Linked DNA regions of Homo sapiens. The protein of the gene in region 1 interacts with the protein of each later gene in a pairwise test. Each region holds a gene or a part of one and is shown in the gene's direction. Other genes may lie near its edges. The genes, in order: DIS3L and RNF20.

What was found.
Region 2: the proteins of DIS3L (region 1) and RNF20 interact in a two-hybrid assay, tested with the Homo sapiens proteins (one large-scale study listed by BioGRID).

What each region holds. Positions count from the first base shown.
Region 1 is NC_000015.10:66,292,218-66,296,367, forward strand, and holds the start of DIS3L (DIS3-like exonuclease 1), read left to right. Parts: upstream 1-1,350; 5' UTR 1,351-1,379; coding exon 1,380-1,518; intron 1,519-1,597; exon of another isoform or gene 1,598-1,869; coding exon of another isoform or gene 1,870-1,957; exon of another isoform or gene 1,958-2,231; intron 2,232-2,770; coding exon 2,771-2,924; intron 2,925-4,150. UniProt on the Homo sapiens protein: Catalytic component of the RNA exosome complex which has 3'->5' exoribonuclease activity and participates in a multitude of cellular RNA processing and degradation events.
Region 2 is NC_000009.12:101,540,137-101,544,164, forward strand, and holds part of RNF20 (E3 ubiquitin-protein ligase BRE1A), read left to right. Parts: intron 1-66; coding exon 67-234; intron 235-353; coding exon 354-501; intron 502-656; coding exon 657-839; intron 840-4,028. UniProt on the Homo sapiens protein: Component of the RNF20/40 E3 ubiquitin-protein ligase complex that mediates monoubiquitination of 'Lys-120' of histone H2B (H2BK120ub1).

The sequences.
Region 1 (4,150 bases):
ACTTAATAACTGGGTAACCTTGGCCACTTAACTTCCCTAACCCTGTTTTATAGTCTATAAGATAGGAATGATAATGCCCCACTCCTTTGACTTGTTGTGGAAATTAAATGGGACACGTATACAAAGCTGCTAGTGCAGCTCAAAAGTCTTAGTTGAGTGCTTGGAAGAAGAGTGGATTCTATCCCATCAAGGGTGTGTGATCTCAGAAGAGACTGTGTGCATCTCTTTATCAAGAGCTACAGGCTGGGCGTGGTGGCTTACGCCTGTAATCCCAGCACTTTGGGAGGCTGAGGTGGGAGAATCACTTGAGCCCAGGAGTTTGAGACCAGCCTGGGTAACATAGTGAGACACTCCCATCTCTACAAAAAAAAAGAAAAGAAAAGAAAAGAAAAAAACGCTAGGCGTGGTGGAGAAGATCGTTTGTGCCCAGAAGTTCGGGGGCTGCAGTGAGCCATGATCATGCACTATACTCCAGCATGAGTGACACAGCAAGACCCTGTCCAAAAAAAAAAAAAAAATTAATACAAACATGTACGTTTGTGATTGTGTCACAGTGGCAGTTTAAAGGAGAAATCCTTTGCCAGAGGCTGCAAAAGCTATAAAAGTTGGAGTGGAACAGTGCTTCAAGGGAAGAGATTGGTTTTCATTTTATCTGCATTGTTTGATTATATAAGTACATGATAACTTCAATAGGGATACCAAAACAAATAAATAAATTTTAAAAAGAACATGAAAGGCCAGGCGCAGCAGCTCACACCTATAATCCCAACACTTTGGGAGGCCGAAGCAGGTGGATCGCCTGAGACCAGCCGGGCCAACAGAGCAAGACCTGCCCCCCTCACCCTCCCATCTCTACAAAAAAAGAAAAAAACTTTAAAAAAAGTACATGTAATTTTAAATGAATATAACTTTTTAGAAATGTTCGGCTGGCAGGGTTGCCGGCTTATGTGCTGAGTCTTTTACCTCGTTTGGAGATAGCGAGAGCAACGAAGAGAAAACATTAATTACCCGGTATTAGTATTAATACGGCGGCTCCATTCCCACATGGACCTGGGGGGGACAAACAAAGTCTCCTAATCTTGGACAGCTGCGCCCAGCCCTTCTTCACCTGCCGTCCAGGTATCATCCTAGTCTTCCCTCCGTCTCTGGGGTAGGTCGTTTCCACCCCTCCGCCCTGGTCCAGGCCACTGAGGGAAGGGAAGAAACTAAGGCCGGGAGGGCCGGGCCCCAGCCTGGAGCGTGTAGCTCCGGGCCTCCCCCGGGCGCGGCAGTTACGGCGGTTCCGGAGCCGCGGCGCCTAGGGCCGAGGGGCGGGTCCGAGGCCGCGGCCTTGCCTCCGCCGCGCCCGCCACTCCGCGGCCGCCGGGAGACACGCCGCCATGCTGCAGAAGCGGGAGAAGGTGCTGCTGCTGAGGACCTTCCAGGGCCGCACGCTGCGGATCGTGCGCGAGCACTACCTGCGGCCCTGCGTGCCCTGCCACAGCCCGCTCTGCCCGCAGCCCGCCGCCTGCAGCCACGGTCAGGGCCGGGGCGGGGGCGGGGACGGGGCCGGCGGGAGCGGGCGGCCGCAGTGAGGGGCTGAGCGCGGCCGGGAGGCGGAGCGCCAGCGGCGGGGACACGGAGGCGTAGGCCCCGCGGCCTGCGCCCGCTCGCCGGCCTCACCCCCCGGCTCTCTGCCGGTGGGGACCCAGCGGCCCGGGTCCGCGGCTTCTGGGGCGCCCGGGACTCCCTTACTGCTCCGCCCTGTCCAATGGGAGGGCCCGACAGACCCGCACCCCATGCCGGAGGCCGGGTGGTTTGGCTCCTCAGAGGGGCCTGAGGGCGCGGAAGCCGAGGCCTCCTCCCGCCGCAACCTCGCGCCGTGGAGAAATGGGGAGGTCCCGAGCTGGGAGCCCCCGGGAGCTACAGGCCAGCTGCTGCCGCTGCGAAGCTGACATCGCCTGCTTTGCAGCCACAGGTTTCCTGACCTGCCCGCACTGTTGCCCCAGACTTTTCCCCCAGTGGAGAGCCACTTCACCGTAGATTTGTGAACTCTCTGGGCCCGCACTGGAGCGGAAGGTCACGGGGAAGTTGGACTGGGGACTCCTGGGCCCCAGTCCTTGGTTTCTAGGCCACAAGGGTGGCCGATAGAACGATGCACGTTACTGGCTCTCTTCCCCCATGGGAGGATGAGAATGGGCTGGGGGTCCTTGTCAGCGAATGTGTGGAATCCTCCAAACATTGTGATTAAGGTGAACATTTCAGTTAGAGCTTGGCTAACCAGCTCTCAGATGCAGGTCTGGTGGGAAACCTCACCTCTGCACGTTGCTTGCACGGAGCATTTTCTCTGTTCAATCTTTCTGGCCCTTGGAGGCTGCTGAGCACGTGCAGAAGCTTGACACAGAGCCAACTTTAAATTGCTGGGCATCATACACAAGTGGTATAAATGTGGGGGTGCTTCATTTGAATGTGTTTGTCAATGATGAGTTAACACTGAAATATTCAGGTTATGCTGAAAATGTGCTTGTTCGTTGTTAAATCAGCCATCCTCTCCGGCACCTCTGGCAACACCATAAACCACGTTGAGCTTGTATTTATCACAGCTTCCAAAAAAATGAGGGTGCTCAATATACCTGAACTTTGGGCCTCTACCAAAGTAGATTTGTCTTTTAAAAACTCCCACCATGGAGTTAAGACTGGAAGTTATTTTGCATGCCAGAGCACCGTGACATTTAAATAAACCAGGTTTGAAAACATTGTCTAATCTCTTACATTTTGAATTATGTTTCAGATGGGAAACTCTTGTCTAGTGATGTGACTCATTACGTGATCCCAGACTGGAAAGTTGTTCAAGATTATCTTGAGATCCTTGAGTTTCCTGAGTTGAAGGGAATTATTTTCATGCAGACAGCTTGTCAAGCTGTGCAGCATCAAAGAGGCAGGAGGTATACGTTTTGCATTCTTTATTTCTATATGGCATAGGTTCCCCCCACCTTAGAAAAGGTCCCTTGTCGGAGGGGGATGGGAGGAATTCATTATTTTGTCAGAAGGGACTTTTAAAACTAATTTCGTATTCTCTTTGATAGTGAGGAATGCAGTAACATTATTTTATATTTCTGCTTCAACACCTGGCCAAGAGATCTGACTGTAGATTAGTAAACTGCAGTGTCCCCAGTATGTGGGTATTTAAGATTCTAGTGTGAATTGTCTTTTGGCTTGCATTTTTATAGTGGCAGGGTTATTGCTTATTTCTTGTTGATAATGTGTATTATTTAATCTTATTTATAGATACATTGTTTCAGAAGCATACGTTCTTTTCTTGGGGAAAAGAGTACTTTATTTTTAAATTTTAGACTCTTTTATTGGGGATGCAAATTGTACTTGTAATGATTTATTCAATGAAACCAGAAATAGCTTGTTTTATTTTTAGATTACTAGTGTAACTACCAGCCATAGTCATTGTATTTGCTAAACAAAGGCTTTCTAATTGAACAAGTCTAAAATTCTTGCCTAGTACTTAAATGAAGAATAGCTGTCTACCTTTTAAACAAATACTTTGAAAAACGATTTTGCTTCCTTTAATGTTGGGAAAGGTTTATGACTTGAACTTAAAACTGTATGGAAATAGCATATTAGAATTATACGTCCAACCTTTTAACACTCTAAGTTATTTAATAAGCACCAACTATGCATTTATTCTTTTTTAAAATGTTGTGGTTTCTTCAGGCCTTAGTGATAAAAGATGAAGTGTTTTTATTTGTATATGAAAATGGCAAAAAATTGTCCTCTTATTATATGCTCAGTTCAAAAAACATACATTAACCAGATTGTGTGCAGGTTTTTTCAGATAGAATATTTTTAAATGATCTTCAAGTTGATTTTGTTCAGACACCAAGATATAGATGTTTATACACATCCAAATTTAAATGCTGCTCCAGGTGTCATATTTCAGTTTCTGCTACTAAAATCAATTTGTTGTTATCATTCAGATTGCTAACACACTGCGAGCCTTTTCAACTTCTGTTTTCTGAAATATTTTTAATGTTAAGGATTGTTTTAGAAACCAGTTCCTGGGACATTCAAAGACAAAGAGTTGGAATTTAAACGTTTTTTTCTCCTGAACATTTCAAGAGTAGTTAACTTGATGAAAAACTATTGGTTTTCCACTGCC
Region 2 (4,028 bases), on another chromosome or scaffold:
GTTGAGTTTAACGGCTCATTTTTCTTATTTCTTTGTGGAGACTAATACGATTGGTTTACTGGGCAGGAGGAACTAGACATTAGAACACTGCAAACCAAAAATCGCAAGCTGGCAGAAATGTTGGATCAGCGGCAGGCCATTGAAGATGAACTTCGTGAGCACATTGAAAAACTGGAACGACGACAGGCCACTGATGATGCCTCACTATTGATTGTCAACCGATACTGGAGTCAGGTAGCTAACTTGTTTATTTGTTCAGATTTTTATTTGACCAATTTAGTTCTCCTTACTGTTCTCTTCATTTCCAAAGTTGTGTCCTTTGTTTCTTCATAATTGTACCTACCCTTCTCCAGTTTGATGAAAACATCCGTATCATCCTTAAACGTTATGATCTGGAGCAGGGCTTGGGAGACCTACTCACAGAACGAAAAGCCCTTGTTGTGCCTGAACCAGAACCAGACTCTGATAGCAATCAGGAGCGTAAAGATGACCGAGAGAGAGGCAAGTGTTCGTGATGGATTCTATCACTGCATGCTATCTGGGTTTTTAAAGTAGAGCTCTGCTTTGAGGCTTTCCATTTGAGGGAAAAAAAATGGATTTTGTTATTTCCAGTTTATAATTTTGGGGGGCTTCTTTTTTTCCCCCTGTGTCCTCAGGGGAAGGGCAAGAGCCAGCTTTCTCTTTCCTTGCTACTTTGGCCAGCAGTTCCAGTGAAGAGATGGAGTCTCAGCTGCAGGAACGTGTGGAGTCTTCCCGCCGAGCCGTGTCCCAGATTGTGACTGTTTATGATAAATTGCAAGAAAAAGTGGAGCTCTTATCCCGGAAGCTAAACAGTGGAGGTGAGGCAAGACCCTGGAGGCCGGGAGTAGTGGAGGAGGAATAAGAATTCATTTTTGCATGCTAATTTGTAGTTTGCAAGCTTACATATTTATTTTTATTTATTTATTATTTACTTTTTAAGAGATAAGGTTTCACTGTGTCACCCAGGCTGGAACACAGTGGCACCATCATAGCCCATTGAATCCTCGAACTCAAGCAATCTTTCTGCCTCAGCTTCCGAATAGCTAGGACTATAGGCACGTACTACCACACCTGGCTAATATTTTAACCTTTTTGTAGAGAGGAAGTCTTGCTATGTTGCCCAGGCTGGTCTCAAACTTGGCCTCAAGAGATCCTCTCTTCTGGCCTCCCAAAGTGTTAGGATTACAGGCATGAGCCACTGTGCCTGGACTATATATTTTAATTAAATTTTTAGAAATTCTAACCTTCAGTGTTACTGGTAATGTCTTCATTATGGCATATTAATCTTTTATCAGTGCTTCTCATTTTGAGCCACATGACAGTCCTTTAATAAGCTGAGGAAAGAGTTTATCAGCTCTATACTGATATACTCTATTAATGACAGTTTTGTAAATAGCAGAATTAACTTTATTATTTAATAAACAGCTCTAATATCTGGATCTGTTTATCGTGTATGTAGGCTATTGATTTATAGTGATAATACTTTATTTTAAATAACAACTATATTATTTAATTATTAGTTACAGAATTTTGACTTGAAAAAGTTAATTTTTACTTAACTTATTTTTCATTATCGCTAATGTTTTTAAAAAGAGTTGGTGCAGGTTTTAGAGTTGACAGATGATCTGTATGGTTAAAAGGATTATTAGAAAATATTCTATGGATGAAAGAGTATTTGAAATAAAATAATTATTTGGGATAATTGTGTTACTCAGAGTTAATGCAAAAATTTAAATTTGTACAGTAAAGTATTTGTGTAGCTAGGTTACATCTTTAGTCATTTGTGGCATAAATACCTTGCTCAAATGCAAAAAAAATGCCTTGATTTCATGTTTTCAATAATAATCATGGTCTAGTTGTAATATCTTAATTTCCCTGCTTATCATTAAGATGTTTAACCTTTCATTTCTGAAGGAAATAAGTTGAATGTAATGGAGGTTGAACCATTGGATGAGCATATAAGAATTGTATTATTCTGTAATTTTGCTTTTAAGGGTAATTGGGCTAAGTTGTCAACAGAATTAAGCAGCTTGTAGAAGGCCTGTGAAAATTTGGTCACGGGTTTCTTTTGCTTTTCCATTAGATTATGCATTTCTGTATTTTATTATAAGGAAAACAGATACTTGTTTAAAAATATACAAGTCAGAAATACAAATAAGTAGACTACAAAAGTTTCCCCATTCTCATTTCTCAAAAGATAACCATTCTAAACAATGTGTTTTATGTCCTCTCAGACTTTTGTACTTTTGTATTAATATCTTACATCTACTTGCATGTCCCCAGCTAAACTGTGTCTTGGTTCAGTAGTTTGGCTCACTCTTCTTTGTTTCTCTAGTTTCTAGCACTGCATCTGGCATCTAGCAGATGTTTAGTCAATGGGGAATGAATGGATGTGAACCTCCCTGTCACCTAATATAAAATAATGGTGCTTTGTGTGTGCACATATGCTTCTTTCTCCTTGGGCTCTAATTGAATAGTTAGAAGGTATTGTTAAATTTTAGTAATATGGTAATTAATATGCCATGTGCATAGACTATGTTAAACTTGATTTCATAAATGAATATCAAGTGAAACAATTGTTTTATTTAAAAAGGGAATAAAATGAGTAGTATATCAAACGACTTTAAAATTACTATTTAATGGCATGCATTTTAAGGTCGGGTTTAAGTTAAAAAGTAGAAACATTACAAATAGCCATGCCATTATTTGTAACACAAAAGGCAATTGCCATTGGTAAGCTGAACTTTCTAAGAGATAAAGATGTATAAAGTATGAATTATAGCATCAGTTGTAACTTGTTTGAAAGTTCATCCCCCTGACTTAGACTGAAAATTGACATTCCTCAAATTCCTAGGACATCATCAATACAGTAGTTTCTACTTCCCCATTCCCTGTGGAATTTCTACCACGCCATTCCTCAATAACACTATACAGTCTTTTATATTTAGGGTAATTCATTATTTGGAGGTTTGGAGTTGTGTTGTGTTTTACAAAATCCCCTATGATATGATAGGCCTTCTAGAGTAAGGTAAGGCCTTCTAGAGCAAGTATAGGCCTTATAGAGTAAGGTCTATAAATTCATCTAACCCTGCCAGAGCGGCACTGTCTAACCTGCCACGGCAGTACTGTCTAACCGTGCCAGGGCGGCACTGTCTAACCCTTCCAGGGCGGCACTGTCTAACCCTTCCAGGGCGGCACTGTCTAACCCTGCCAGGGCGGCACTGTCTAACCTGCCAGAGCGGCACTGTCTAACCTGCCAGAGCGGCACTGTCTAACTCTGCCAGGGCGGCACTGTCTAACCTGCCAAGGCAGCACTGTCTAACCCTGCCAGGGTGGCACTGTCTAACCCTGCCACTGCAGTACTGTCCAACCCTGCCAGAGCGGAACTGTCTAACCTGCCAGGGCGGCACTGTCTAACCTGCCAGAGCGGCACTGTCTAACCCTGCCAGGGCGGCACTGTCTAACCTGCCAGGGCAGTACTGTCTGTTTGTTTGGTCTTTGATTCAAAAGAATTGCATTTATGGGCTTGTTTATAAATTCACTAAACATTTATTGAATTTTATTGTATTCTAGCCCTGTCCTCAGTGCTTAGGATATTGAGAGGACTAAAATTCAGTCTCTACTTCTTAACTCAGGTTATGAATCAGAATAACCTTGGGAGTTTTCTGAGCATATTCTTATTTTTGGCTTTGCCCATGGAGGTTCTTATTAAGTAGGTATGAGATAGGTCCTAGGGAAATGTCTATTTTAAAAGTTCCACAAGTGATTCTGATGGGCAAGCCTAGCTTGAAAACCATGAAAACCACCATATGACCAACCTGTTCTGTATTGATACTAAGAGTAATGCCAAGAGGTGATATGAGAAAGCATATTTTTCTTCCTGATAACTCTCTTTGATGGGTGGTATATATCCTGAGAGTATCTGGTTTCATTTAATTACATTTGGATTTCAGCTATAGTATTTGCAACTCTAATTTTAAACATACGAACTTGGTGTAATAAGTTCT